4 separate regions of the Homo sapiens genome follow, and regions 2, 3 and 4 are each linked to region 1. The links come from fine-mapping of genetic effects on gene expression. A gene starts in region 1. Each other region holds a variant in brackets. All regions are shown on one strand. Distances are from middle to middle.

Region 1 (8,513 bases):
CCTTAGGCAAGGCCATGAACACGCCTGCGCCTGTTTCCTAACTTAAAGAGAAGCATTAGCCGGTCTCTAAGGTCCTGGAACTCCCGTCTGCTGTCGCTGGGCGTTCATTTGAAAGACAAAAGCGGTTCCGAAAGCACGCCCGGCGGTCCCTGCTCTGGGAGTGCTGACCTGCCTGTGTGCAGCACAAAACCGCTCCCTTCCGGCCCTCACAGCTAACCTGCAGTCCCCATCCCTCCAGCTTCCTTTCTGCCATAAATCACTAACTGTGTGGGAGATGAAATCCGCCTGGTGAAGGCTGGGACGGACAAAACACAGTATTCCAAAATCTAGGGCCCAAATCGGAGCCCTCGGAGACGCGGCCCCTAAAGCCAATGGGGTCCGGGGCGGCCCGGAAACTTCCGGGAGAACCGGACCCTGAGATTCTGGAAGGGCCAAATAGTGACCCTCTTCCCTAAAAATCACGGAAGAGACATGAAAACCACGGGATCTCCCTGGCAAACCTCAGGAGACAGCAGAGAACTGCGGAGCCGAGAAGGCGGGGCAAGAACTTCCGGGGTGGGGCTACGGCCGGGGCGCAGGGGTTGGCGGGCAGGGCCCTCGCCTCCAGCGACGCATCCACCCACCCCTGGGTCCGGCTCTACTGGGTTATCCTCGTTCCGCCGAGCAGGAGAGGCCGGGGGCGCCCGGGAGCTTGCAGGCGGGCGTGGGTGCTTGCGTTCTCTACTCGGGATCCGCGAGCAGGGCCAGCGAGAGGCCAAGTGTTGTGCCCTTCGCGACCCTCGCGTCTCTTAGTAACGCGATGAAGCTGCAGGAGCTCCCGGCTCCTTCAGGCCCCGCCCAGCTAGCTCAGGCCCCGCCCCCGGGAGTGGGCTTTTATGCGCATGCGCGAGGGCTGGGGTGGGCGCCGGCCCATCTTACTAAGCCAATGTAGGTCCCAGGTAGGAGCGCTGCCAGGGCTCACCCCTGAGCAGAGATGGAGGGCGAAAAAGGGTTACTTGCCGCTACTTGAATCCCAGACAAAATTCCCTGTGAAAGCGGATCACAGCACGGAGACTGTGTTTGTAGTTCCTGATAGTAGATATCTCCTATCTATTCATTTGCGAGGAATGAACCATTCCAGAGAGTCGCCATAGTGCCTGACAATCAGTAAACCTACAATAGATGATATCTATAGCTTTAATTATTTTTTCTAGCATTATCTATTACTATATTACAGTACTATCTAAGCGAAAAGTGATCAGATTCAAGATATACGGTTTTTTGTTTTTTTGTTTTTGTTTTTTTTTAGACGGAGTCTCGCTCCGTCGCCCAGGCTGGAGTGCAGTGGTGCTATCTCGGCTCACTGCAAGCTCCGCCTCCCGGGTTCACGCCATTCTCCTGCCTCAGCCTCCCGAGTAGCTGGGACTACAGGCACCCACCACCACGCCTGGCTAATTTTTTGTATTTTTAGTAGAGACGGGGTTTCACCGTGTTAGCCAGGATGATCTCGATCTCCTGACCTCGTCATCCACCCGCCTCGGCCTCCCAAAGAGCTGGGATTACAGGCGTGAGCCACCGCGCCCGGCCAATTTACATGTTTTGAATGTAGAGCCATCAGGACTTGTCAAATTGTTGAATGAAAGAAAGGAGCAATTGTGTGCTGGAGCCAGCTCATTAGAGCTCTGGAGACTCAGTAATTAAATTTTTAGGAATTTTTCTGAGCTCGTTGTTAAATACAAGCCATGAGCTGGAGTCAATGAAGATGACAAGGGCCTCGGGCACCTGCCCCAAACAAAACAAAAACACAAGACATATCACAAATTAAATTATATAAACTTCTAAATAAACGAGTCATACTAAAACAAAGGCAATACTTAGTAAAACTAAAAACAAAAAACTATTTACTTACAACTCCCAAATTTCTCTCTTCAGCCCGGTCTTTCTCTGAACTTTAGATTTGTATATCAATGTATATTCAACATCCACTTGATTGTACAAAACAACCTCCCCAAACACCTCCCTGCCAAAACAAAAACAAAAACCCTGCTCCTTCTTCATGTCTTTTAGTAGATGTGGCCTAGAGCCCTCTCTTTCCATATCCATCAATGCAACCTGCTGACTTTATAGCTTCTACTCAAGCCATCATAATTTTTCTTTTTTCTGGTAATTACAACCGTTCCCAACAGCTCTCTATGCCCCCTCTGTAGTCTGTTGTCAACACAACAGTCAATGCAATCTGTTTAAAACCTAAGTCAAGGCCGGGCGCGGTGGCTCACACCTGTAATCCCAGCACTTTGGGAGGCTGAGGTGGGCAGATCACGAGGTCAGGAGTTCGAGACCAGCCTGGCCAATATGGTGAAACCCTTTCTCTACTAAAAATACAAAAGAACTAGCTGGGAGTGGTGGCGTGCACCTGTAGTCCCAGCTACTCGGGAGGCTGAGGCAGGAGAATCGCTTGAACCCAGGAGGTGGAGGTGGAGGTGGAGGTGGCAGTGAGCCGAGATTGCGTCACTGCACTCCAGCCTGGGCATAGAGGGAGACTCCGTCTCAAAGAAAACAAAACAAAAAAACCTAAGTCAAATTATGTCAGTCCTCTGCTCACAACCCTGCAATGGCTTCCCATCTTATGGAGAGTGAAAACCAGAGGCTATACATGGTGAGCAAAGCCCTGTAAGATTTGCTCACAACACCCTCCCTCCTTCCTCTGTAGCCCCGGATCATTCTGCTGCAGCCACACTGGCCTAACACTGCCTAGCACACAGTAGGTGCTAAAGGGATATATTTTGAATCAGTATATTTCATCACTGCCCTTCCGATGCTGTGGAGGCAGCATGGCACGGTGGCTAGCAGTGTGTTGTCAGAGAGCACAGTGTCTAAAAGTGTGGTGGCCTTCTTGGATTTAAATCTGAGCTCTACTTACTATCAACATGACCCTGGACAAGCTACTTAACCTCCGTATCCTCAACTGGCAAATGAGGACAGAAAGTGTACCTATCTGATGGGCAGGTAGGATGTGAGGATGAAATAATGAGTATAAAACACTGATAACATCTGGAACTACATAAATGGTAGACAGTAATTACTTGCATTAGAAGGTACACTCCCACGTCCACAGGGATTTTTGTCTGCTTTTTTAGTTTTATTTTTTTGAGACAGGGTCTCTTTTGTCGTCTAGACTGGAGTGCAGTGGTGCCATCTTGGCTCACTGCAATCTCTGCCTCCAGGTTCAAGTGATTCTTGTGCCTCAGCTCCCAAGTAGTTGTTATTGTAGGTGTACCACCACACCCGGCTAATTCTTTTTGCATCTTTAGTAGAGCTGGGGTTTTGTCATGTTGGTCTTTAACTCCTGGCCTCAAGTGATCCACCTGCCTTGGCCTCCCAAAGTGCTGAGATTACAGGCAGGAGCCACCAGGATGGGCCACATTTTTTGTCTACTTTGCTCACTACTGTATCTTTAGTGTCTAAAATAGTGTCTGATACACAGTAGATGGTCAGTGAATGATTTGCTGAATGAATTAAGCTTCACCATCACATTTCCTGCAGTATTGCAGCAGCTTCCTACCTGAATTCCTGCCCCAGACTTCTTGAGTGTTGTGTTTTTTTGTTTTGTTTTGCTTTCGAGATGGAGTTTCGCTCTTGTTGCCCAGGCTGGAGTGCCATGGTCCAATCTCGGCTCAGTGCAATTTCCGCATCCTGGGTACAAGCAATTCTCCTGCCTCAGCCTCCTGAGTAGCTGGGATTACAGGCCCCTGACTCCATGCCTGGCTATTTTTTTTTTTATTTTTAGTAGAGACGGGGTTTCCCCATGTTGGTCAGGCTGGTCTCGAACTCCTGACCTCGGGTGATCCACCTGCGTCGGCCTCCCAAAGTGTTGGGATTATAGGCATGAGCCACCACACTGGCCCTGAATGTTCTTTAGACTCGAATCCAGTGGTTCTCAAACTTTAGGGTCCATCAGAATCACCTAGAAGGTGTGTTAAGCTGCAAACTGCCAGGCCCCACTCTCCCAGAGTTTCTGATTCACTAGGTTTGGTCTGGGCTATGCTTACCTATCTTGCCTATTTTCTATCCTGTCTTTCTCTTTGTCCTGACTCTATTTCCCTTTGTTTGTACTGTATCCATTGTGGAAAGAGGAGGAGATAAATAAGTGAGCAAATACATAAGATCACGAGCATTAACTTGACCTGCCTTTCCTGGAGCTCTACCGTGAGATTCTTCGGACACTAGACTCACAGCAGAATTTGTTGTTAGGTCTCCATAACCCTGCCAGGGCAGTTGTTCCCATGTGTTCTAAGACAAACCATCAAAGGTGTTGCCAGTAGTATACTAGCAGGATATTTTACCTCAATTAGTGATTATGTTGTGTATACCTTTCCATGTCACCCCTCCTCCCCCTCCTCAAGATTTCATGGAAATCTGTATTTGAATAGAACTCTGAGTATCATGGCTACAGGCACAAGCTGACATTCACTAGGGATGTCATTCTGTTTTGTTTTGTTTTTTTGAGACAGAGTCTCTCTCTGTTGCCCAGGCTGGAGTGAACTGGCATGATCTAGGCTCACTGCAACCTCCGCCTCCCAGGTTCAAGTGATTCTCCTGCCTCGGCCTCCCGAGTAGCTGGAGATGTGTGCCACCATGCCCGGCCGATTTTTGTATTTTTAGTAGAGATGGGGTTTCACCATGTTGTCCAGGCTGGTCCTGAACTCCTGACCTCAGGTGATCACCTGCCTCAGCCCTCCAAAGTGCTGGGATTACAGGCATGAGCCACTGAGGTGGGCTGGGATGGCATTCTGATTCCTGATTTCCCTGGTCAGAAATCTTTGTTCCTGGATTTGTTCTCACGTTACCTTGCGTCTCTGTGGAAGCATTTATTTGCCATATTCTGCAAACATGTTGTCGCCAGATAGATTGAATGCTACCCGAAGGTTTGTCACAGTGCTGTGCACAAAGTGGGACTTCAAGTGTTATGGAGGCCTGGAAAGCCAGGTACAATGGCTCACCCAGCACTTTGGGAGGCCGAGGCGAGCGGATCGCATGAGGCCAGGAGCTCGAGACCAGCCTGGTCAACGTGGTGAAACCCCGTCTCTGCTAAAAATATAAAAATGAGCCAGGCGTGGCGGCGCGTGCCTGTAGTCCCAGCTACTCTGGAGGCTGAGGCAGGAGAATCGCCTGAACCCGGGAGGCGGAGGTTGCAGAGAGCCGAAATCACGCCACTGCACTCCAGCCTGGGCGATAGAACTAGACCCCAACTGAATAAATAAATAAAATAAAGCGAAAGTGTTCTGGGTTGTTTGTGTTTAATTATACTAAGGAGATTTGATAGGAAGGAGCACAATAAATGTCATGGTGATTATTTGGTTTATTGTAATACAATAAAGGAAATACAATAAAAGGTTTAACAAACCTTTTCATAAAGTTGCTTTGGTTGTTAAAAAATTTTAGACCTTTCCTGCCATTTTTCTTTTTTTAAGTACATCATTCTAACTTCCTAAAAGTATAGCTCAAAAAGGTGGGGGCCCAGGGGAGAGGCCAGCAGCGAAGGCATTATTGGGATCTTATTTGCCCCAAGATCACGCAGAGATGATTTATTCAGTTTGTAGATTATATAAACGGAAGAGGGAATTAATAGTTCCTGAATCTACCATGAGTCAGATACAAACTTTCTCATACAACCCTCACGGTAATCCCACAAGGTTAGAAATTGGGAACAGAAGAGAGAGGGCGGGGAACTGAGCTCGGGTTTCAGGCTAGCAGCAGACAAGCAGGAAGCGGAACGAAGAATGATTTCTAAGCGCAGTTCCGCAGCCCACTCACCTCGTCGGCTGGGGCCACCTGCTCTGGGAGTTTCGATTTCCCTTCCCGCGACTGCACCTCCACAGACATGGGCAACGCCTTACCAGAGCAACACCTGTGTTTGTTGGGCGGGAATGAGCCTTGCACTGGGCAGGGCTCAGGGCCCATCGCGTGCAGCGAAGCGCGGGTGATTTAAACCCAAGCAGCGGGCGCCTAGAACCCGACCGGATGCTCCTTGACTTTGCCCCCGGTCTCCGGACTCCTCTGATTGGACGTGGCTGCGTTCGGCCGCCCAATGGCGAGGCAGCGCGCGGCTTCCCGGAAGTGGCGGCGCGGTCAGGGCTGGCCTTGGCTTCAGCTGCGGTTTTGGGGTCCCGGACTCTGGGATCGGCGGCGCTATGAGTTCTTTCGAGGGGCAGATGGCCGAGTATCCAACTATCTCCATAGACCGCTTCGATAGGGAGAACCTGAGGGCCCGCGCCTACTTCCTGTCCCACTGCCACAAAGGTGAGTGAGGGCTGCGCGTCGCCCGCTCCCGGGGCGCTGGGGGCTGGAGAGAGGACAGGAGGGGGCCGGCCCTGGAGCAAGGAGCTGCAGCCTGTGGGAAGCCAGCGAGGGGGCGGCCAGCACACGCCTTGTCCCAGTCGGGCTCTTCAGCCTCTCAAAGGCTTCATCTATTTTCGGATGTGGTCAACGCGGCGTAACGGCGCCTGCCAGTTGCGCCCCGGGCCGGCTTGGTCAAGCACTGCTAGTAGTTTCTCTTGGTAGCTTTGCTGGTGGCCGATGATCAGAGATTGGCGAGGGTTAGTACTTCCCTCAGAGCCTCGCTACCATGTATGAAGAAAACAAGTTTCAGATCCATTTGACCACACCCTCAAACATTGGTCAGCAAGCAGGAGACTCAGACACACACACAACTGTGGAACAGCCCGCCTAAGAGCTCCACGAAGTGCAAGCTCCTTGGCCTTTGGGTGTTCTGTCCGTATCCAATATGAAAGTTTCGTTCTAGTTTAGGTTGGAGGGATGTTTCCCTTCTAGATGGTATCAGGCAACCTGAAAAGCTACTATGATTTCACAGCTGGATCCTTTCACAGCTGGGCCGATTTAGGGATTAAGGTTAGAGTGTCGCTGATGCTCCAAGCAGAGATTGGAGCTAAGTTCCAGAGTTTAAATACCGCTAACTTGACAACCATTGTTCATTTTCACTTCTATTGTGCTAACAAGTCACTAACTTTTACCAGGGAAAACAGTTTTAATGCTCATTGTGCTAATTCGCCCAGCCATTAGTGTTAATTGGAGAAAATGATAAACGGAATCACTGGAGTTGCTGCCTCCTGCTGTGTGGCCTTGCAGCGTGCTGGAGCAGGAAGCTCCCACTACCCTGTGGAGTCAATCAGCGTAACAAACCTATCTGTACCTGCGCAGTAGGAAAGTATTTTAAAGTAAATTACAGGTATCCAAACACAGCCTTTCCTCACAGGGTTGGTGTGAAGGCCAGCTATGTTGTTTTGTGTGTGGAATCAATCACTTGGACTATAAATCGTTGAAGTTACTGCTTCTGCGAAATGTCTCTGCTTTTTTTTTCCACAAAGCCACCAGTGATTTCTCTTTAATGGGAAAATCTGGACCTCTTCTCGTGCGTTGCCGTATTCGCATCGTGCACGTCTTTGAGCATCTCCTTCTTCTTTTTCTTTTTTTTGGAGACAGGGTCTCCCTTTGTCGCCCAGGCTGGAGTACAGTGTGGCACATGCTCTCTGCTCAAGTAGTTGGGACTACAGGAGTCAGCCACCATGCCTAGCTAATGTTTGTATTTTTATTATTATTTTGAGGTGGAGTCTCCATCACCAGGCTGGAGTGCAGTGGCGTGATCTCTGTTCACTGCAACCTCCGCCTCCTGGGTTCAAGCGATTCTCGTGCCTCAGCCTCCCAAGTAGCTGGAGTTACAGGCACGCACCACCACACCCAGGTAATTTTTGTGTTTTTAGTAGAGATGATGTTTCACCATGTTGGCCAGGCTGGTCTCGAACTCCTGGCCTCAGGTAGATCCACCCACCTCAGCCTCCCAAAGTGTTAGGATTACAGGTGTGAGCCGCTGTGCCTGACACATTTCTGGTTTTGTTTTTCATTGAGAATCCACTGCTGGACGAGGATATGCCTATTTTTACTTTTTGTGTAGAGCCGCACTGGAGTCTCTGAACTCAAAATGGGCTAGCCAGGATTAAAGTATACTTCCGAAACTTGCACTTCGTGTTTAGGATGGCTGAGTTTGGAGAAATAATAAATCTAAAGGAATTTGAAATCATCATAAGTTTGTGCATTAAGCCAGAAATGGACTCTTCCCTACTGTTGAACAGTCTATAACAACTTTTTCTGTTCTCTGACCACATGTGGATCTGCTTAGTCAACCAGGACATAAACTCATCAAGGGTGAAAACACAACTTCTGCTTTTGGAGGTTTCTCACATTGCCTTCTGTTGGCTTTTCACCTTTTTGGGACACAGGCTTCTTTGATTATGATATGGACTATCTCCACAAAATTCATATGTTGAAGCCCTAACCCCCAAAGCGACTGTATTTGGGGCTGGGGCTTTTAGGAGGAAAATAAGTTTAAGTGGGGTCCTACCGTGGTGTCCTACTCTGATAGGATTAGTTTCCTTACAAGAGAAGGAAGAGAGAGGGCGCTCTGTCCTCATGCGGGGCCTAGGAAAGCCATGTGAGTGCATAGTGAGAAGGCGGCTGTC
Region 2 (5,000 bases), 44 kb after region 1:
ATGGTCCAGAATATTTACGGACCATCAATTGTGGACCAATTTACACATTAAACCTGGTAAATGTTTAATGTGTACTTCAAAGAAATATATGTACTACTGTTGTTGGATGAAGTGTTCTATAAATGTCAACTAGGCTAAGTTAGTTGACAATGTTGTTCAGGTCTTCTACATTCTTGTTCTATCAATTATTGCCAGAGAGGGGTGTTGCAATCTCCAGTTGTAATTGTGGACTTGCCTATTTTGCCTTGATTAGTTCTATTGGCATTTGCTTCATCTATTTGAGGCACTATTAATAGGTATACACAAGTTTAAGATTCTTATATCCTCTTGAGGGATTGATACCTTTATCTTTAGGAAATGAGTCTATCCCCTGGTAACATTCTTAGTTCTACAATCTACTAGAGCCATTTGAATTTCTTCTCATTAATATTGGCTTGATGTATCTTTTTCCATCTCTGTATTTTTAACTAGTCTTTATATTTAAAGTGGGTTTCTTGTAAGCAGTATGTTGTTGGATGTTTTTATGGCCAACCTGGTATTTTCTGGCTTTTAATTGCAGTGCTTAGTCCACTTAGTTTAATGGTACCCATTGATATGGTCAGGTTTAAGTTTATCCTCTTGCTATTTGTTCCATTTGTTCTTTATTCTTTTTTGGCCTTCTTTCAGGTCAAGTAATTACTGACTGATTCTGTTTAATCTCTTGTTGGGTTATTGGCTGTGTAACTCACTGATTTCTTATTTTAGTGGCTTATAATGCAGTCATCCCTTAGTATCCTTGGGGGATTGGTTCCAGGACCCCCCCAAGAGTACCAAAATCTGCAGATGCTCAAGTCATATTAAATGGTGTTACATTTGCATATAACCTACACATATCCTCCCATATACTTAAAATCATCTCTGGATTACTTATACCTAATACAGTGTAAATGCTTGGTAACTAGTTGTTATACTGTATCAATTTTTGTGTTTTTTGTATTTTAATTTTTGCTTTTTTCCAAATATGTTTGATCTGTGGTCAGTCAAATCTACAGATGTGGAACCTGTGGATACAGAGGACTGACCGTATACATCTTTAACATATCAGAGTGAAAAGATAAATGATATATTACTCCAAATATGGTATAGGAATGTTCCAGCAGTATATTTCCATTCCTCTTCTCCCAGTCTGTGCTGTTATTGTCATACATTCTCTGTTATTAACTTTATAAACTCCACAATACAAAATTATTTTTTAAGCTTTATTGAAGTATAATTGATACACCATAAATTCATCCATTATAGGTGAACAATTCCACGACTGTTAGTATAACAGAATTGTACAATCATCCCCACTATCTAATTTTGGAACATTTTTTGTTACCCAAAAAAGAAACTTTATGTCTATTTCCAGTCACTCCCCATTACTATTCCCGGCCTTAGGCCGCAACTAATCTATGGTTTGTCTCTATAGATTTGTGTTTTCTGGACACTTCATATAAGAGAACTCATATGGCCAGGCACAGTGGCTCGCGCCTGTAATCCCAGCACTTTGGGAGGCCAAGGCAGGTGGATCATGAGGTCAGAGAGATCGAGACCATCCTGGCTAACACGGTGAAACCCCGTCTCTACTAAAAACACAAAAAATTAGCCAGGTGTGGTGGCGGGCGCCTGTAGTCCCAGCTATTGGCCAGGCACAGTGGCTCACGCCTGTAATCCCAGCACTTTGGGAGGCCAAGGCGGGTGGATCATGTGGTCAGAGAGATCGAGACCATCCTGGCTAACACGGTGAAACCCCGTCTCTACTAAAAACACAAAAAATTAGCCAGGTGTGGTGGCGGGCACCTGTAGTCCCAGCTATTAGGGCAGCGGAGGCAGAATGGCGTGAACCCAGGAGGCAGAGCTTGCAGTGAGATCACACCACTGCACTCCAGTGTGGGCGACAGAGCGAGACTCTGTCTCAAAAAGAAAAAAAAGAAATTATACACCATGTGCTATTTTGTGCCTGGCTTTTATTTCGCATTATCTTTTCAAGGTACATCTATACTGTGGCATATATCAGTATTTCATACCTTTTTATTGCCAACCAATATTCAATTGTACAGGCATACAACATTTTATTTATCCACTCACCAGCTGATGGACATCTGGGTTGCTTCTCCTTTTTAAATAATAATGCTATGAAAATTTGAGTACAAGTCTTTACGTATCTTTCTGTTGGGTTTTATTTCTTGTGGGGGGTAGAATTTTGGAGTCATATAGTTGGCTTGGGCTGCCCTAAGAAAATAACACATACTAGGTAGCTTAAACAGGAGGCCAGGCATAGTGGCTCACGCCTATAATCCCAGCACTTTGGGAGGCC[G/A]AGGCGGATGGATCACCTGAGATCAGGAGTTCAAGACCAACCTGGCCAACATGGTGAAAACTTGTCTCTGCTTAAAAAAAAAGTAAAAATTAGGCTGGGCACAGTGGCTCAAGCCTGTAATTCTAGCACTTAGGCAGATCAAGTCTCCAGCCTTATGATGGTTTAATTATTTCCCTAGAGGTCCATCTCTAGATAACAGCCACACTGGCTTTAGGGCTTCCACATATGAATTTTGACAGGAAGCGTTCAGTTCATAACATATGGTCAATCTGTTTTAACACTCCAAGGAACTGCCAAACATTCCCACACTGAATACATTTTACATTCTCTCCGGCAATATGTAAAGATTCCAGTTCCTTCACATATTAGCCAACACTTCCGTCTTTTTTAGTATAGCCATCCTAGTGTATGGTGGTACCCTGCAGTTTTGATTTGCATTTCTCTAATGACTAATGTTGAGCTTTCTTTCATGTGCTTATTGGCCATTTATGTAACTTCTTCAGTGAAATGTCTATTCTGATCTTTTGCCCCCATTTCAACTGGATTATTGACCTTTGTATTGAGTTGTAAGAGTTAAAGTCTGGTATCAGTCCTTTATCTGACATGATTAGGAAATATTTTCTCAGACTTGTCTTTTCACCTTCTTGATGGTGTCTTGAAGCGTAAAGGTTTTAAGTTAAATTTGTCTATTTTTTTCTTTTATTGCATATGCTTTGGTGTCATATCTAAGAAACTATTTGATCCAAGATCATGAAAATTGACTCCCATGTTACATAATTTTACAGTCAGTTTTGACTGTATCTTCCTGCTTCTTGAATTTCTGATAATTTGTTTTTGAATGCCATACATTCTGAATTTTACCTTTTTAGGTCCTGCATAATTTTGGGATTTCTAAAAACATTCTTGAGCTTTGTTCTGGCATGTGGTTAGCATGTTTATAGTTTGATCTTTTCGTGTCTTTTACCTTTGTTATGCAGGAACAGAGTAGCATTTAGTATATGGTTAATTTTCCCCACTACTGAGGCAAGGCTCTTCTTGGTTCTTTTACAAATGCCCATGGATCATGAGGTTTTCCACTCTGGCTGTTGGGACCAGGACAAGACACTGTTCCTGGCACGGTGAGTTCTGGGCACTTTCTTTCCTTTTGTTTGAGTGATTCGTTGCCTGGCTGCAGGTAGTTTCCTTACAAGCACATGCTGCTTAGTGCACTGAACACGTGGTGGGGACGCCTCTGCAGCTTTTCAGAGTTTCTGTGCAGCACTCTCCTCTCTGGTCTTCTGCTCTGTAAACTCCAGGTACATTTATTTCTTCAATGTTCCACTTCCACCTCACATCAAGGATGTCCATGGGCTCTATCCAGATGTTCCCTCCCTGACTGGAATCTGTTATGAAGCAGGGAGTCAGGCAATCATAGGACTCATCTGTGTCTTATTTCTCATGTCATTGTCCTTAATTGCTCGATGTCCATTTTCTTGAGAGATAGTTTCTGATTTTTCGTTATTTCAAGTGGGAGGTTAAATCTAGTCCGTTACTCCATCTTACCTGGAAGCAAAAGTCCTTTCTTCCTTTAATCTTTTGTGCCTTTTATGCATCTACCCAATCCACACTCCTTTTTGATAAATGTCTTTTGGGATCAGGCATAGTCACTGATTTGGAATGCAGAACTGTTCAACTTAGAGATCATACAAAAATATTTCATAAAAAGGTAATTTTGGGCTAGGCAAAGTGGCTCATGCCTCTAATTCCAGCAATTTGGGAGGCCGAGGGGGTGGATTGCCTGAGTGCAGGAGTTCAAAACCAACCTGGGCAACAAGGGGAAACACTGTCTAAAAAAAATTAGCTGGGCATGGGGGTGGATCTCCTGAGCCTGAGAGGTAGAGGCTGAACTGTGACTGTATAAAACTCAAAAAACAACTTTGGCATAGTAGTGAGGGACCTAAAACATACATATGATCTTTGGCTTAAAATCTACATTCTGCAGTCTAGGATGATTCCAAATACAGTCGTTAGATATCTTAGTGACCTTAAGCCCTAAGTTCAGTTACAAGTCATAACACTGAACCTTTAAGAATGAGGTTGGGTCGTGTGTATTGGCACACCCTTTTCTCTGGGCCTAGCTTCACACGGGGAACATGGGAGCTGGATAATGGTCTCTATGGTCCTTTATATTAGTGTCTTAAAAATGCAGTGTTTAGCCACATCATTTAAGTGGATTATTATAACACCAGATTCAGCAGTAGAACAAGAAGTTGCCATACACAGTAGTCTTGGGTGCATTTAACTTTCTTCCTAGGTTAGATACTGTTACAAGATGGGAAAATATTTGTTTTTCTAAGTAAGGCTTTTTTCATTTTAAGAACATTTGTTGACACAGCATGCTTATTAATGTTTTGAATTTTAAGTTCTTGACACGTTGATTATTCAGTATTTTGCTTTAAAGTTGATTTAACCTGTTGCAACCTTGTGCATAAAACATGTCAATAAGATGCTCACAGAAGAAAAACCTTAATAAAAAGCAATTTAATTTTCCTAAGTCAGCCAACCCACTGAGCATCTACTATTTGCAGAGCACACAGGCTTTGCAAACCTGGCTGAACAGATATCAGCTGTAGAACTTAAAAATCAAATTATTTGGTCCTATCTTCCTCAGGGATTCAGTAGG
Region 3 (7,940 bases), 57 kb after region 1:
CATCAGCTCTATTTCCTGAAAAAGTTCAGTTGAGGTAACCTCTGCAAGTCACAGCTCCACATTTACATACTGTTCTGACCCTCTTTTTGGCTGGGCTGTGGTCAATAGAATCTGAAGATATATCTCCAGAACCTGAAGACACAGAAAAAGAAATATAGGAGAAAGAGAGTTAAGACAATTTAGAATAAATTTCAAATTTTCTATTATATTAGCTTTATTATCAGTGATAGAGGGTACTTACATGGTCAAGACCCTTAGAGTAAGTTAACTCCCAAGGAAATGTAGTTAGTTCCCTTTGAAATATTTACAAATAAATGTTAATATTCAGCGTCAAATCATAATGAATTGTCTTGAAAGGATGGTGTGGGTTAATAATAGGTAAACTTTATGTTATTAGCCCATATTTGTCAGAAAGGATTTCTGAAATGATGAAACTTACTGGGAATATCTAATACACATTCATTTCACACCGTATATAAAAGCACAGTATGTAAGAGGTTAAGCAATGACAATATGTAAAGGCCATCATTCTTAAAGGAAAGAAAACATTTATATTGTCACAATAAAGCAAATAGAATTAAATGTTCTTTTTAAAAGCCAGGTTCAAGTAGGAATAGAATAAATTTGTATGTGATTTAAATATTTTCAATCTTTTGAATATACATCTCTCAGTAAAAATTCAAAAATGTAGGCTTATAGTTTTTTTTTTCAGACAGGGTCTCTGTCGTCCAGGCTGGAGTGCAGTGGTGCTATTCACAGCTCAACTGTAGCCCCAACCTCCCTGTCTCAAGCCATCCTCCCACCTCAGCCTCCCGAGTAGCTGGGACTACAGGCACACGCCACCACGCCCGGCTAGTTTTTTCATATTTTGTAGAGACAGAGTTTCACCATGTTGCCCAGGCTGGTCTTGAATTCCTGGGCTCAAGCCCAGAGTGCTGGGATTACAGGCAGGAGCCAGCATGCTTAGCCCACAATTTAAAAAAAAAAAAAAAGACAAGTAGTACAGTATTAAGATGCTATAATAAATAAATCAGTTTCCAAAATGGAAGTTCTGAAAATTTACGATGTAGAACCATTCCTCAGCTGAAGCTCAGGCAGACCTGGGTTCTAGTATTAGCTGTTGGATTAGCTTTGTACCTTAGGATGACAAACTTAGTGCCTCAACTTTTCATCTTTAGTATTAGGTTTGGTTCAAATATCTAAGGTCTGTTCCTAGTCTGATTTGATTCTTCATATTGAAACTGACACCAATGAAACTGTACTTGAAAAGCATACCTTTCATTTGATAATCAAAAGTCAGCTCTTCTCCAGCATTTATGGTTCTTGTGGAAAACAATGCTATTCGGGGAAGACGAGTATCGAGGTTATCAATGAAAACATTGAACACCTGAAGATTTGGGTCACACTAAAAAGGAACATTAGAACCCATTTAAGTACAAACGGTGTAAACAAGCCCTTCTACATGCCATATAAAATGTTTACTTTCCTAGAGATTTAGTTTAAGTTCCACTGGAAATTAAGTTGCTTATTGCTTAGAGGTCTTTGAGGCATGCACATTTAAAAAGATTTTTTTCCCTTATAAAAACTTCAGACAAGTATAAAATAGAGAAAATAAGAAATCCCTATGTATCCACTATACAGCTTCAACAATTAGTAACATGCTTGCCAATCTTATTCCTCTAGTCCCAACTTTTTTTTTTCCTGGAGAATTTCAATACAAATCCCAGATAACATTATTATTTCACTGGTAACTATTTCAGTAAGGCATACACTTTAAAATAACTAGAACAACTGTGTTTAAAAAATCAAATCTGCACTACAGAACTCAAATTTTACACTGCATGGAGTTTCACTGCTTGAATTTTTGGTCCAAACTCTTCAATGTTTTGAGAATACTACAGTAAACTTACGGAATATGCAAGAAAAAAGATGTAGTGAGTCATACTAAGGAATCAAAACTGTTTGATGGCCCTGGATAGAATATCTCTATTTTGAGAGTATCTCGAATTTATCATTAAGAAAAAAATTCTTCAATGTTTAATCAACAAACAAGGGCCCAGAAGCTCTCTGCTAATCATACACCAATTTCTTACTATGAAATCCATCAGAAGTTTAACATGGTCTACTTCCTTTATATGTTCAGCTATATAACTTTGTGGCACACACTGTCCTTATTATCCACAAAATGCAGATAATGTCACCCTAACAAGCCTAATGTTTTACTGTCCACTTGCTACTTAGTAGGTAACCCAAAATTATTAACTTCCCTAATTTTTGGAAATTATTTAGAGTCCAGAATTCTGCAGTTAAGTGCCAGCTGTATTCTAAGAGCTTTCAGACATTAAAAGGTAAGGAAGAATACTAATTTATAATTTAGAAAAATAGCCCTACATAAATACTCTACAAATCTTTAAATTTTATAAAAAGTTAACATGTTTACATTTTAAGAAAATACATTTACCTTCAGTTGTACATCCTAAAATGTAGTCGTGTTAACTTCCATTAAGATACAGTTCTGTGTAATTCTTGGACATTTTACCTCTTAATTGCTCTGCTCATTGTAATATGAAAGTAATACCTACCGTACAAAGTTACTAGAAAGTTTAAATGAAGTAACATATGTAAAGACTCTTGTAAAATACACCCTATTAATATTTGGTAGGCACCTCAATGTTTAATTTTCCTAATACAGCAATAATACCATAACTTAACAGAAGCTGCCCTCCTTATAAAATACATATTTTGGAAATGTTAAAAGGATATGTAGTTTAAAGGGAATTATTCTTTAGCTATGGAAACTAGTACTAGGTTGAATTGTTAGTCGTGTCTAAAATTTACGTATGTCTTCTTACGCTGTGATTCACAAAATGAGACACATTGCC[G/A]TATCGAGCCGCATCCACTGTGAATTCATCAGACTCATAGTCCAGATCAAAGAGATACGTGATTCCCTTGTTGTCATAGAACTGTCCTCGTCTTTCAGCTTCTTCACTTGTGATTACCTAAACAGAAAAAACTGTAAGTATATTACGTAGCTACTGAACCAAAGAAGCATTCATCTACCTATCTACTAATATGCGAATACCTACAAATATTTAAAAAGTAAGAAATTCAGGTGTCATCAAAGCAAACATTCACACAAACTAAGACTCAGATGCAAAGAGGTGGGAAAATGAGGGGAAGAAAAATGATAATGCAAAAGACTGATGACCTTTTTTTTTTAAACAGGGTCTCACTCTGTCACTCAGGCTAGAATGCGGTGGTGCCATCATGACTCCCTGTATCCTTTAACTCCTGGGATCAAGCGATCTTCCTGCCTCAGCCTCCTGACTAGCTGGATCACAGGTGCATACCGCCATGCCCAGCTAATGATTTAGTTTTTATAGAGATGTGGGGTCTCACTATGTTGCCCACACTGGTCTGGAACTCCTGGGCTCAAGTGAGCCTCCAGCCTTGACCTCCCCAAGTGCTGGGATTAACTGTAACTGGTTGATTTATGACTTTTTAAACAGGATTTGAGCAGTACATTGGAACACTGCATTACTTTCATTATAATTAGGATGTTCAAAAAGCTATACAACTATAGCTCTCTACAGGACACAACTGAATGTTAAGGACTAAATCTGCAAGTATATGCTCTAAATATGATCCAGGCACATTTTTCCTATAACTTATATATATGCAGTTACAAATGGAAAATTGTTAAAAATACAGGGGAGAAGCTATGTTAACTTTGGAATGGAAGGTTTTGTTTTTGTAGAATATGTTATTTTCATGCAATTCTGTAAGTCTAAGATCGTCATCTACAGTTCTGCTCTTAAGAACACAAGTTTTATGACACGCTCGGCTTAAGAAACCAAAAGTGTCTAAAGTACTTTATGTTACCAACCAAATTTGGCTGCTGCACTCATTAAGAATGCAACTTAAAAAATTTTGGTTAACAAAAAGAGTAATTTGATTATACAAGATCTTGTATACTGAATAATTTATAATAATCTACCACTGTCTAAAAGTGTAAGAATCAAAACAGCCATCTAATTTAGTTTCAGAATTATAGATGAATACAGATAATTATAGGTGACCCAATTCCAACTAAAAAATCCAGAGTTGACAACTCCAGATATGTAGCCATGCTTGTGTCTTTCTAGTCACAGCTCAACCTACCCTTCAGTTTGAAGCAGTGTGGTGCCATGGTGAAGACTACTGATTTTAGAGCTTTGAATCTCGGTTCTTATTACTATGTGACCTGTGTGACCTTGGGCAAGGTACTCAATTTCTCTACAATAATGGACATAACAGTACTACTTCTCAAAAAAAAAAAAAAAAAAAAAAAAAAAAGAAACAGTACTACCTCACTGAGTTTTGGAGAGGATTAGTGAATTAATACATCAAGTGCTTAGAATAGTATGTGACACACGGCAAATACTTTTTACATTTATATATATATATACATATATATGATTTGTATACAAATAAATTTGCTAGTATTTGTATGGTAGTTTTGAGAATGGTCTTCACAGTTCAAAAGTAAGTTACAGATTATGGATGCAATAAATGCTTGTGTATATTTTACAAAACTCATAAATATAGTATCTTTCATGTTGATCCAAAATAGAGTTCTGCCAACTACATTTAATCATATTTGGTCAAATAGATGAAGTAAATTAAAACTTTCAAGTTTCAAAGCAGCATGTGTTACATCTGAGTTTCTTCTTAGGACTTTTGGGTAAAAACAGTTGTCATATTTTAAATTTTACAAATCCTAGGTTTGACTAGTAGGAATGTGTATTTGTTGAAAGATGACTATATCAATTTGTTTTAACGTATATTTTTTATTCATATAAAAGTTTTTTATTTCTAAATATGCCAGTGAACTCTTCTCCTAAATCTGAATAAATTTCTACATATCTGCAAATGAAAATATCAAAATGTACCAAGTATCTCTTAAAGAGATAAAAAGGTAATTTTCCAAAAGTATAAACCTTGCATGTCCATCATTTACTACGTGGCAAATGAAACATACCTCTCCAACATATTCCATGACAAAACTCATTCTTTTAATCTTCACAAGGGTCTTTACACCCCAGCCACGTCCATTGCTAGTTCGAAAGATGCAAAGCGAATACTGTGTGCCTTTTTGTACAATCCTATTGGGACAATCAGGACCACACTGACACCTTGAGTTGCATTCATAGATGGGAGTACCAGGTGGGATTTTAATTTGTTGGTTTTTATTATAAGCCAAAAGAACTCCAGCTTCAGCAGGACAACATTTTTGAAAGAAGCAATCTGTGCATGAACAACCAAAGGTAGCTTCATTGACTAAGCTGATTCCAGGAGCTGGTTTGTATTCGTTAATGTAATAGAAGTCTGAAGGTGGGCCCTCTAAATCAACAGTATTTTCAACAAATATCATTCCTTTATGATTCTTTCTTCTGTTGAGTTCATCTTGCCATCTCTGCAGAGCTATCCTTTGTTTAGCCTTCTTCACAATGTACTCAGCAATGGCAGGTTTCAAAGTTTTGTTATTGTCTTTTGGAGTTATTGCTTTGCCTTTCTTTACCTGAGATAAATAATTATGCTTGTCATTAGAGAATTGCTGAAGCAGTAACGGGCACTTCAGATTTTGCAAAGGTTCCCAAGTATTTGTAGAATCTGGCCATCCTTTCCATTTTACAAGATAATATTCCATATCCTTAAAATACAAAAGAAAATAAAATGCAAATCAGACGGCTATTTCCCAGTTTTACCAAAAATAATTAAAAATCTTAAAGAGTAAGGTATCCAATACCATTTTTCTTACTAACAGTTCAGAACATGTAGTCACAGGTTCCTAACACATGAAGTATAAATCATACAAATAAAACTATTTTTCCTTATATTACATAAAATATGGAATTTAGATGTGGCATAACATGTTTGATAAGAGGCTAAAGAGTTTTACCTGGAAAAAGACAAAGGTACTGAAACTGATGACTATGTTACTAAATGGTGATTCAGGTTAAACCCAGATGTATTTATTTTGATCATGGAAATAAATGGTCCCAAAGCTAACTCTTTATGACCTAGGTTAGTGGCTTACTTGGCCAGCAATAGATTCAGGCATTCTTAACGTCCATAACTTAATATCAAACACCAGACACAAGGGAACTCATTTCTCAACATCATGGGCACACATTCTCTAGATGTTCTAGAGATGAACTATCCAATACGGTTATTACGAGCCACATACAGCTACTGAAAACTTGAAATGTGGCCAATCTGAATTGAGATATGCTTAAAATATAATACACACTGAGGCTGGGCACGGTGGCTCATGCCTGTAATCCCAGCATTTTGGGAGGCCAAGGTGGGTGGATCGCTTGAGCCCAGGAGTTCGAGACCAGCCTGGGCAACATGGGAAAACCCCATCTTTACTAAAAACACAAAAATTAGCTGGGTGTGGTGGTGCACGCCTGTAATGCCAGTACTAGGGAGGGTGAGGCATGAGAATCGCTTGAAACTGGGAGGCAGAGGTTGCAGTGAGCCAAGATTGCACCACTGCACTCCAGCGTGGGCGACAGAGTGCGAGACTCAGTCTCAAACAAACAAAACAAACAAACAAAAAAAAAAGCAAAAAAAAAAAACCCACACTGAATTTTGAAGACTTTGTATCATACAAAAAAAAGAACACTAAGTAACTTAAAACTATTACAGGTTGAAATAATATTTTGGATATATTGGATCAAATACATTCTTGAAAGCAATTTCAGCTGTTTCTTTTTACTTTGTTCAATGTGGTTAGTAGATGTTGAATGGCATCTGCAGCTTGCATTACATTTCTATTGGACAGCTCTCTTCTAGAGAATGCTGATTTTATTTAGACTCACCCATGACTGGATTAGGTAGCAGGCACTCAAGCCACCTAAGAGCAACTATTCTAATCTATCCCTCAGACTGTTGTTGGCCACGATGCCTTGGCAACAAGGCACCATGGTATCTTGTCTTTTCACTCCAATGACTATGTTTTCCTCCCTTAAAGTAAGGCAATGCCACGTTTAAGTTTCTTTTTAAAAAGGCAGTTCCGGCTGGGTGCGGTGGGTCACGCCTGTAATCCCAGCACTTTGGGAGGCAGAGGTGGGTGAATCACTTGGGGCCAGGAGTTCAAGACCAGCCTGGCCAATATGGCGAAACCCTGTCTACTAAAAATACAAAAAATTAGCCGGGTGTGGTGGCAGGCACCTGTAATCCCAGCTACTTGGGAGGCTGAGGCAGGAGAATCGCCTGAACCCAGGAGGAGGAGGTTGCAGTGAGCCAAGACTGTGCCACTGCACTCCAGCCTGGGCAAAAGAGTGAGACTCCATGTCAAAAAAAAAAAAAATAAAAGTAAAAAATAAAAGATAAAAAACACAGTTAAGTGTGTCTAACAAATTTTGAAGTAAAGTCTCAGTAATTTTTTTTTTCTTCTGGAATAATATATAGCCACATGCCCAAGGGTAACATTAGATCATAAAATGTCTTCTAAGATAAAAAGGTGATTAAACTGCATTGGACAGTTACATTATCATTTTAAGTCTTAGATACTGAAAAATCTTGTTAATTGAGATAACTGCTTTTCCCTGAAAATTTTAAGAAAGTTTTTATTACAAAGTACAGAGGTCCATGACAGTTGTTTTAACAGTCATAATGCATTAATGACAAAAGGTCTAAGCCATGTGATATCTGCCATGTTGCTGAGGCACAAATTGGGCTGAGGGACACCATGAGGCAGCTGTGCAGGAACCAGGCGCCCACCCAGGAGTGGGCTTATTTTATCCCCACTATCTGCATCTTAATATTTTGTTTCATTATATTCTATTCAACAAGCAGTAATCTTTGTGAATTAAAAACTTTGCGGCCGGGCGCGGTGGCTCACGCCTGTAATCCCAGCACTTTGGGAGGCCGAGGCGGGCGGATCACGAGGT
Region 4 (8,585 bases), 120 kb after region 1:
ATTGATATGTTTCGTTACATTTACAAAATATTTTGAAAAAAATTAAATTCACTGGGTACATTTTAAAATTGGGAAATTTTATGTAAAAATTCATATTTCTGGCTTTTCTCAAAAAACCAGATGACCTGGCAAGATTGGCCTTATGGCTGTATAGTAGAATTGGCTATTGGCTGCTCTTTTTAGAAAGGACTTGGGTTTTGAGTAGTTTGCCGCCCCTACTCTGCCCCCGATTCAAATTGCTTAACTCTTCTTTTTCCTTGCCTGGCCCCTGTAGATATTCAAGTCTGTGAGTCCTATTATTAGGTAATGTGAGGTTTACTGGAAAAACATAAATATTTCCAAATCTCTTTTAAAGGATTATATTATGGGACTATTTTAAATAACTTTTTATTTTAAAATAATTATAGATTCACTTATAAAACTATCTTTAATAAACATAAAAGCACAATATAAATAAAAGAAGTATGGCTATCTGAGGTTATTTTAGCAATAAAGACATCCCAGAAAACTTAAGAAGCTACTAATTTGTTAGGGCATTTATGGTGAGGTTATTCTCTTCATGTAAGTCCAGAAAATGAGTTTCCTTTCTTACCTTGACTTCTTTGTGGTGTGTGACACCATTGACATCTTTCCCTTTCAGAGACTGCCTTCTCTTCATGGTCATGATACTGCTTTTCTCCTTCCTGTCTCTATGCCCACTTGTCCAGTGTGTCTTTGTGGGCTTCTGATCCTCTAGCCATGGCTTAGAATTTTCCAGGGTTCTGCTCTCTTCTCTTCTCTCTTCTCAGTCTACACACTCTTCTTGGCAACCCAAACCAACCTACCTCCAGTCTAATAAATCTCTAACCTTATATCCACTGACCTTTCTAGAGTCTCAGACCTTGCATCCAATTGACTAGTGAACATGCCCTCTTAGATATGATGTACATCAACATCAACACAGTCAAAAAACCAAAGTCATCATCTCCTTCCCTTCTCACTCCCCTAAACCTGTTACTGTCATGCTTACGGTGACAGCATGGGACAACTACCTGGTCACCTAGCCTAGATTCTAGACTTCTCTTTCCCCCTTATCCCCCAACCAATCACTACATCGTTGAGTCTACCTCCTGACTGGTCCTGCTCCTTTCTCCTTACTCAAGTCTAGGACTTCCTTACAGAACTTCAGCAGTTTTCCCCTCCGCATTGTCAAAATAGCATTCTTCCTGCTACCTGTCTCCCTCCTGTCTAGTCCCCTGGCAGGGCTATCATATTACTTCCTTATTTAGTATCTTTCAGCAGTTTCCCAGTTTCCTCCAGGTGCCGCTCCTTTGTTTTCCCACAGTATCTGATACACTTCTCATATTGTTTTGGTCTCCTCTGAAAGTCAAGGCAGTGTTTCTCACCACCTCATGTCCAGCAGCTACCATAGTGCATGGCATATGGTAGGCGCTCAGTTTGTTGAAGAAATGTATGCATATATGCTGTGATAAAATTTTGGGTATATTTTAGTGAGTCAAATGTAGATCTTGAAAAGGACAAGTTAGTATTCCTAACTTTCATCACCTAGATGATACATTGGCAGAGTGATAGTTGAGGTATAGAAATCATATGAAGGTATACTGTGGGAAATACCACAAGAGTGATGAGGCACTGGAATACTGGGGGTTTCTTTTGTAGGAGACAAGAATTAGAGGCTCCTAGGAGACTTTGATGATAGTTTCTTTTTCTTTTTTCTTTTTTTTTTTGAGACAGAGCCTCACTCTGTCACCCAGGTTGGAGTACAGTGGAACAGTCTCAGCTCACTGCAACTTCCGTCTTCCAGGCTCAAGTGATCCTCCCTCCTCAGCCTCCTGAGTAGCTGGACTACAGGTGCTTGTCATTACACCCAGCAAATTTTTTGTATTTTTAATAGAGATGAAGTTTCACTATGTTGCCGAGGCTGGTCTTGAACCCCTGAGCTCAAGCGATCCGCCAGCCTTGGCCTCCTAAAGTGCTGGGATTACAAGTGTGAACTCCCGTGCCTGGCCTGATGATAGTTTCTGCTGACTTGTAGCATTAATCATTACAGCAGGTTTCTGCTTTGCATACTGGATATATTTGCTAATTAAACTCAGCAAAATACATGTTGAGAGGGATCTCATTTTCCACGTGTAATATAGCAGATCATTACACATTCCTTTTAACACTGTGTTCACTTGCCTTTTGGAATAACACTCAGTCTTTGTTCTTATCCTACTTCACTGGCTGCTCCTTTCCGTCTTTTTCTGGTTGTTTTCCATCTTCCCAATTGCTAAACATTGGGATTTCACAAGGCTGAGACCCAGGACTGTGTCTCTTTTCCGTCTCTCCTTACTTTGTGTTCTCATCTCAAAAACACCATTTGAATGTTGATGGCTTCCAGATTTATATAGTCATCCTAGATCTTATACCTGATCTTCACATTTCTATATCTAGCTGCCTTCTCACTGTTTCCAGTTGGATGTTATATTAGTCAAGGTTCTCCAGAGAAATAAAACCAATAGGACCAAACAGAACATATAATCTATATCTATATATCTTCTTAATATCTGTAATATTTATCTATGTAAAAAGAGATTTATTATAAGGAATTGGCTCACAAGATTGTGAAGGCTGAGAAGTCCAAAATCTGCAGTGTGGGCAAGCAGGCTGGAGACCCAGGAGAGCCTGTGGTACGAAGGAAGTCTAAAGGGAGTCTGCTGGAGAATTCCCTCTTCGTCAGGAAGGCTGGTCTATTTTGTTCTGTGCAGGCCCTCAAGTAGTTAGGTAAGGCCCACCCACATTATGGAGGCCAATCTGCCTTACCCAGAGTTCATCAATTTAAGTGTTAATTTCATCATTGCTACATAAAATTAACCATCACAGACGTCTAGAAGCATCTTGAACTTCATATGTCAAGACTGGATTCTGGCCAGGCATGGTGGCTCATGCCTGTAATCCAGCACTTTGGGAGGCTGAGGCAGGCAGATCACCTAAGGTCAGGAGTTAGAGACCAGCCTGGCAAACATAACGAAACCCCATCTCTACTAAAAATACAAAAATTAGCTAGGTGTGGTGACATGCGCCTGTAATCCCAGCTACTCAGGAGGCTGAGGCACAAGAATCACTTCAATCCAGGAGTTGGAGGTTGCAGTGAGCCGAAATGGCACCGCTGCACTCCAGCCTGGGCAACACAGCGAGATTCTGTCTCAAAAAAAAAAAAAAAAAAAAAAAAAGCAAAAAAAGAAAGATTAGATTCCTGCTTGTCACCATAAACTGCTTCTCCTGCAGTCTTCCTCATTTCAGCAGATGGCAACTCCACGGTTCCAGTTTCTTGGCCAAAATTATTGGGATTATCTTTGATTCCTCTCTCTCTCCCCAACTCTGACACATTACATCTGGCTTATTAGTAAATTCTTTTGGCTCTTCCTTCAAGATAGGTCCAGAGTGTAACCACTTCTCATGACTGCTGTAGCTACTGCCCTGGTCTAAGAGATGCAACTATTTTGAGAACCTCTAAACTGGTCAGCTGGTCTCCCTGCTTTCTTTTCTGCTTCCTTGTAATCCATTCTTCAGACAGCCTTCAGAGACATCCTTTATGAATCATGTCGGACCATAACTCTTCTCTACTCAAAACCTTAAATGGCTTCCCTTCTCAGAGTGACATCCAGAGACCTTACCAAGCTTGAAAGGCCCTGGATGCCCCAGCATGCTGCTGCCTATTTGATCTCATTTGCTACACACCTCCCTCTTGCTCCCTCTACTTTAGCCACACTGGCCTTCTGGCTGTTCCTTGAAGCCACCAAGGACACTCCTGCATTTGAGCCTTGGTACTTGCTGTTCCTTCTGCCTGCGGAGTTCTTCCTCAAGTCATCCACTTAAATTGTTCTTCCACTTCCTTCAGGTGTCTGCTTGAATATCACTTTATCTAAGAGATCTTTCCTAACCAATCCATTAAGAATCGTACTATTACCTTGTCACCCTCCATCCTCCTTACCATGTTTATTTTTCTTCTTTGCTACGTATACCTTTACTTCTATCGGATGTAACTCTCAAGGGCAAGTTCTTTGTTTTCTTCATTACTGAATCTTAGGAACCTAGAATACTGTTTTGCACTTACTAGTCGCTTAGTAAATATTTGTTAAAAACATGAATAACTGGCTATTATGTTTAGTATTCTGTTCATGTTGATAGCATTAGAAATAAAAATATATGGGCTAGGCACGGTGGCTCACACCTGTAATCCCAGCACTTTGGGAAGCCGAGGTGGGCAGATCACCAGGTGAGGAGATCGAGACCGTCCTGGCCAACATGGTGAAACCCTGTCTCTACTAAAAATACAAAAACTTAGCTGGGTGTGGTGGCACACGCCATTAGTCCCAGCTACTCAGGAGTCTGAGGCAGGAGAATTGCTTGAACCTCAGAAGGTGGAGGTTGCATTGAGCCGAGATCACACCACTGCACTCTAGCCTAGGCAACAGAGCGAGACTCCATCTTGAAAAAAAA[T/A]ATATATATATATATGTGTGTGTGTGTGTGTGTATATATGTATTATATATGTGTATATATGTATTTTATATATATGTATATACAGTATATATATGTGTGTGTATATATATATATATATATGACTTTAAGCTCTAAAAGATGACATGATTGGCCAGTCATCTAAAAGCAACTGAAAATACTGGATAAAATAAAAATGTGAAAATATTGTAAAGTATGAGTTGGGAAGGCATACCCAGAAGCCAACCACAGAGTGGAAGTGGGAGTCCAGGGGGTTGAAGGGAGCACTGAAGCTGGCTTTACCTGGGAGCATTTGTTAGCCAGGTGATCTGAACTGAAGTTTTCATGGTTTTGGCTAAATAAACACAAGTCCCAGGCATTTCCAAGTTAGGAGAGTGAGAGCAGATCCTCTACCAACTAATTCAGGGCCCCAAAGACCTAGCCCTTCATTATAAAGGGTGAACTGAAAGTAACTACAACCTATTTCCATCTTTAGAGACTAAAAGAAATGGTTTCACTTGAACATTTTTACTGATAAAAGGAAAAACAAAACTTTCTTGATAACTCATAATTACAAGCTCGTGCACATAGGTAGGGGTCAAAGGCCCCATTCACACTACTAGGATGATCTGAAACATCTCGAACTGATAATTTAGTTGAAAGTGATTTTAAGTAGATCATACCCTCAGGAATCAGCAAATGTGAGTCTTGTTTTTGTTTTTGTCTTGTTTTGTTTTTTGAGACGGAGTTTCACTCTTGTCGCCCAGACTGGAGTATAATGGTGTGATCTCGGCTCACTGCAACCTCCGCCTCCCGGGTTCAAGCATTTCTCCTGCCTCAGCCTCCCAAGTAGCTGGGATTACAGGCACCTGCCACCACTCCTGGCTAATTTTTGTATTTTTAGTAGAGACGGGGTTTCATCATATTGGCCAGGCTGGTCTCGAACTCCTGACCTCAGGTGATCCACTCACCTTGGCCTCCCAAAGTGCTGGGATTACAGGCATAAGCCACCGTGCCCAGCCAGCAAATGTGAGTCTTACTTACAGGAACCCACATTCAACCTAGTCCTCAAAGAATTCATACAGTTAAAGTTCTAAGAAATAGAGCTGCCACTTAGAAAAGTCATGAACCCCTAGGGAAGAAGGGCACATAAGTGAGAGCCAGCTGGAACAAAAAACAGAAGAGGCACACCCCTGCAGTGGCTTCAGGTATTGGAATAATCAGGCATAGAAGTTATGTTTTTTTATGTTTAAAGAAACATAGAACATAAACCGAACCCATCCCTACCCATAGGGGACTATAAGGAAATTTACCTTGACACTGAGCAAAGTAGAAAAAAGAAAAAATATATATCTCTGAGAAATGATAACAACAAAACGTCCCTCACTTGTATTTGCAGCCAAAATTCACATCGGGGCCCAAAAACTTCAAGCTATATATTTAGTTTAAAGCAGTGCCTGGCTAGTTGCCCTTAGTCCCTGAGAAATACAAATACAAATCCTTACTGGAAATAATGCTCCTTCATCTCAGGCTTCAAACAATCTTCACAAATAAGTTTTGAGACGTATGAGTATCGTGTGGCGCAAAATAAGCAAGCACACAAAGAAACGAGGCACCAGGAACAAGAACCTATAGAAACAACAACAAATAGAAACGTACTCTGGGCCTGATGCAGTGGCTGTAATCCCAGCGCTTTGGGAGGCCGAGATGGGCAGATCACTTGAGGTCAGGAGTTTGAGACCAGCCTGGCCAACATGGTGAAACCTCGTATCTACTGAAAATATAAAAATTAGCAGGGTGTGGTGGCGAGCGCCTGTAATCGCAGCTACTTGGGGGGCTGAGGCAGGAGAATCACTTGAGCCAGGGAGGCAGAGGTTGCAGAGAGTTGAGATTGCGCCATTGCACTTAAGCCTGGGTGAACAGAGCGAGACTTCGTCTTAAAAAACAAACAAACAAACAAAAAAAACTCTGAAGACTTCAGATATTGAAATTTTCACACACAGATCATAATTAAGTTTAGTGTGTTTAAAGATATAAAAAACAAGCTTGAAAGTATCTTCAAGATATAAGGAACTAGAAGAAATGACCTAACAAGCCTCCCATTTTAGCCTCCTCAGTAGCTGGGACCACAGGTGTGTGCAGAGACAGAGTCTTACTGTGTTGCCCAGGCAGGTCTCAAACTCCTGGCCTCAAGAGATCCTCTCGCCTTGGCCTTGCAAAGTGTTGGGATTACAGGTGTGATCCACTATGCCCAGCCTGATTTCACTTTAGGCTCATAACGATGGAAATAAAGACTTATGCAGATCACCAAGGGGCTTCATTCAGGATTCTTATTCAGGTTTTTCTCTGTGCTTACAATTATGCTGTCCCAAGATGATAGCCTATTTTATTTTAGGGTTAGCCAAATTTTGTGGAAAAGTTATCATTTTAGGTAGAACTTCGTTCCAATGATTGATTGATTCAATATGCTGTTACAATGTGTCCACTGCATTTAGGCCCAATACTAAACTAATAGCAACAGGCCTGAAATCATTCTTTTTATTTATATTTTTAATTTTCTTGAGACAGGGTCTCACTCTGTCACCCAGGCTGCAGTGCAGTGGCTTGATCATAGCTCACTGCAGCCTCCATCTGCCGGGCTTAAGTGACCCTCCCACCTCAGCCTCTCGAGTAGCTGACACGACAGGCATTCACCATCATGCCTGGTGTTTTTTTGTTTTTGTTTTTTTGTGTTTTTTTTTTAGTAGAGACAAGGTCTCACTATGTGGTCCAGACTGGCTCCAAACTCCTGGGCTCAAGTGATCTTTCTGCTTCTGCCTCCCAAAGTGCTGGGATTACAGGTGTGAGCCACCATGCCTGGCCCCCAAATCATTCTTACTTAGCATTGGAATCCACTGTCATGAAGCATTGACTCATATGGACGTTTCTTTTTTTGTGTGTGAGATGGAGTCTTGCTCTGTCGCCAGGCTGGAGTGCAGTGGTAAGATCTCGGCTCACTGCAATCTCCACCTGCTGGGTTCAAGTGATTCTCCTGCCTCAGCCTCCTGAGTAGCTGGGACTATAGGCACGCGCCACCATGCCTGGCTAATTTTTTGTATTTTAGTAGAGAGAGGATTTCACCATGTTGGCCGGGATGGTCTCGATATCCTGACCTTGTGATCTGCCCACCTCAGCCTCTCAAAGTGCTAGGATTACAGGGGTAAGCCACCATGCCCAGCCCCATATAGACTTTTAAATGTGGTTAGTGGGTCATATGCATAGGTGTGGTAGTGGTTAAGTTGTGCATGCAGACATATTTATTTGTTCCTTCCAGTATGTAAAGAATTCTTGAACCGATTCTACAAGTCACTGATAGACAGAGGAGTTAACTTTTCGCTGGACACTATAGAGAAAGAATTGATCAGTTTTTGCTTGGACACCAAAGGAAAAGAAAACCGCCTGGTATAGTAAATTTCACCTTTCATTTTCCCCATGTGCTTGAAGAATACTGCTAATAGTTTCATTTCTTAGACGTGAAGTCCTCCTACTTACATGTTTGCCTCAAGTATGTCCATTTTAGAGCACGCAGCAAGCAGAAATCCATCTTCCAGTGACATGTAGTTCTGCGTGTTTTCATCCAGAATATTTCCAGTGTTACTTTACTTTCTGAGTACACCACAGATAACCAATTCTATGTTTTCTTTTTTCTTTTTCTGAGACAGAGTCTTGCTCTGTTGCCCAGGCTAGAGTGCAGTATCATCATCTCAGCTCACTGCAACCTCTGCCTCCTGGGTTCAAAGCATTCTTGTGCCTTAGCCTCCCGAGTAGCTAGGATTACGGGTGTGCACCACCACACCCTGCTAATTATGTATTTTTAGTAGAGACAGGGATTCACCATGTTGGCCAGGGTGGTCTTGAACTCCTGACCTCAGGTGATCCACCCACCTCAGCCTCCCAAAGTGCTGGGATTACAAGAATGAGCTACCATGCCCAGCCCAATTCTACGTTTTCTTAAATGAAATTATGAAACTGAATTCCCAATAAGAATTTAGCATCCTAAGAGTGGGTGGGCTTTCCATTTCTTACCAAGACAATTAATCAAACTTATCAAAATATTTTACATT

Direction of the effects. Positions count from the first base shown, and alleles are read on the strand shown. Sizes are in standard deviations (SD) of each study's normalised expression. Not every link is listed here.
For the expression in thyroid of the gene that starts at base 6,085 in region 1, allele G in region 3 goes with a higher level than allele A (small effect, 0.32 SD a copy in GTEx).
As copies of A replace T in region 4, the expression in subcutaneous fat of the gene that starts at base 6,085 in region 1 goes up (moderate effect, 0.66 SD a copy in FUSION).

Evidence for each region. PIP is the estimated chance that this variant, and not a neighbour inherited with it, causes the effect. A credible set is the group of variants that fine-mapping cannot tell apart.
Region 2: its variant is the best candidate, but not a certain one, in a credible set for the expression of DCLRE1C in whole blood (TOPMed, PIP 0.57).
Region 3: its variant is the best candidate, but not a certain one, in a credible set for the expression of DCLRE1C in thyroid (GTEx, PIP 0.61).
Region 4: its variant is the best candidate, but not a certain one, in a credible set for the expression of DCLRE1C in subcutaneous fat (FUSION, PIP 0.87).

Annotation. Positions count from the first base shown.
Region 1 is chr10:14,951,668-14,960,180 of GRCh38, reverse strand. DCLRE1C (DNA cross-link repair 1C) reads left to right here and starts at 6,085. Exons shown (of 14, transcript NM_001033855.3): 1 at 6,085-6,279. The coding sequence starts at 6,171. It overlaps MEIG1 (meiosis/spermiogenesis associated 1), which reads right to left and starts at 793. Exons shown (of 3, transcript NM_001080836.3): 1 at 624-793. RefSeq lists silencers at 521-570, 5,894-5,973 and enhancers at 5,992-6,719, 6,720-7,448.
Region 2 is chr10:14,909,646-14,914,645 of GRCh38, reverse strand. The region is part of intron 13 of DCLRE1C (DNA cross-link repair 1C); the gene reads left to right. Among named protein-coding and RNA genes, the nearest start is that of SUV39H2, 33 kb to the right of the region's middle. The variant G/A (reference allele first, on the strand shown) is at 2,339.
Region 3 is chr10:14,894,598-14,902,537 of GRCh38, reverse strand. It overlaps SUV39H2 (SUV39H2 histone lysine methyltransferase), which reads right to left. Exons shown (of 6, transcript NM_001193424.2): 3 at 5,021-5,692; 4 at 2,853-2,999; 5 at 1,276-1,405; 6 at 1-132. The coding sequence ends at 26. It also overlaps a transcript of DCLRE1C not described here. Among named protein-coding and RNA genes, the nearest start is that of SUV39H2, 20 kb to the right of the region's middle. The variant G/A (reference allele first, on the strand shown) is at 2,883.
Region 4 is chr10:14,827,483-14,836,067 of GRCh38, reverse strand. It overlaps CDNF (cerebral dopamine neurotrophic factor), which reads left to right. Exons shown (of 4, transcript NM_001029954.3): 2 at 7,796-7,923. Among named protein-coding and RNA genes, the nearest start is that of CDNF, 6.3 kb to the left of the region's middle. The variant T/A (reference allele first, on the strand shown) is at 4,486.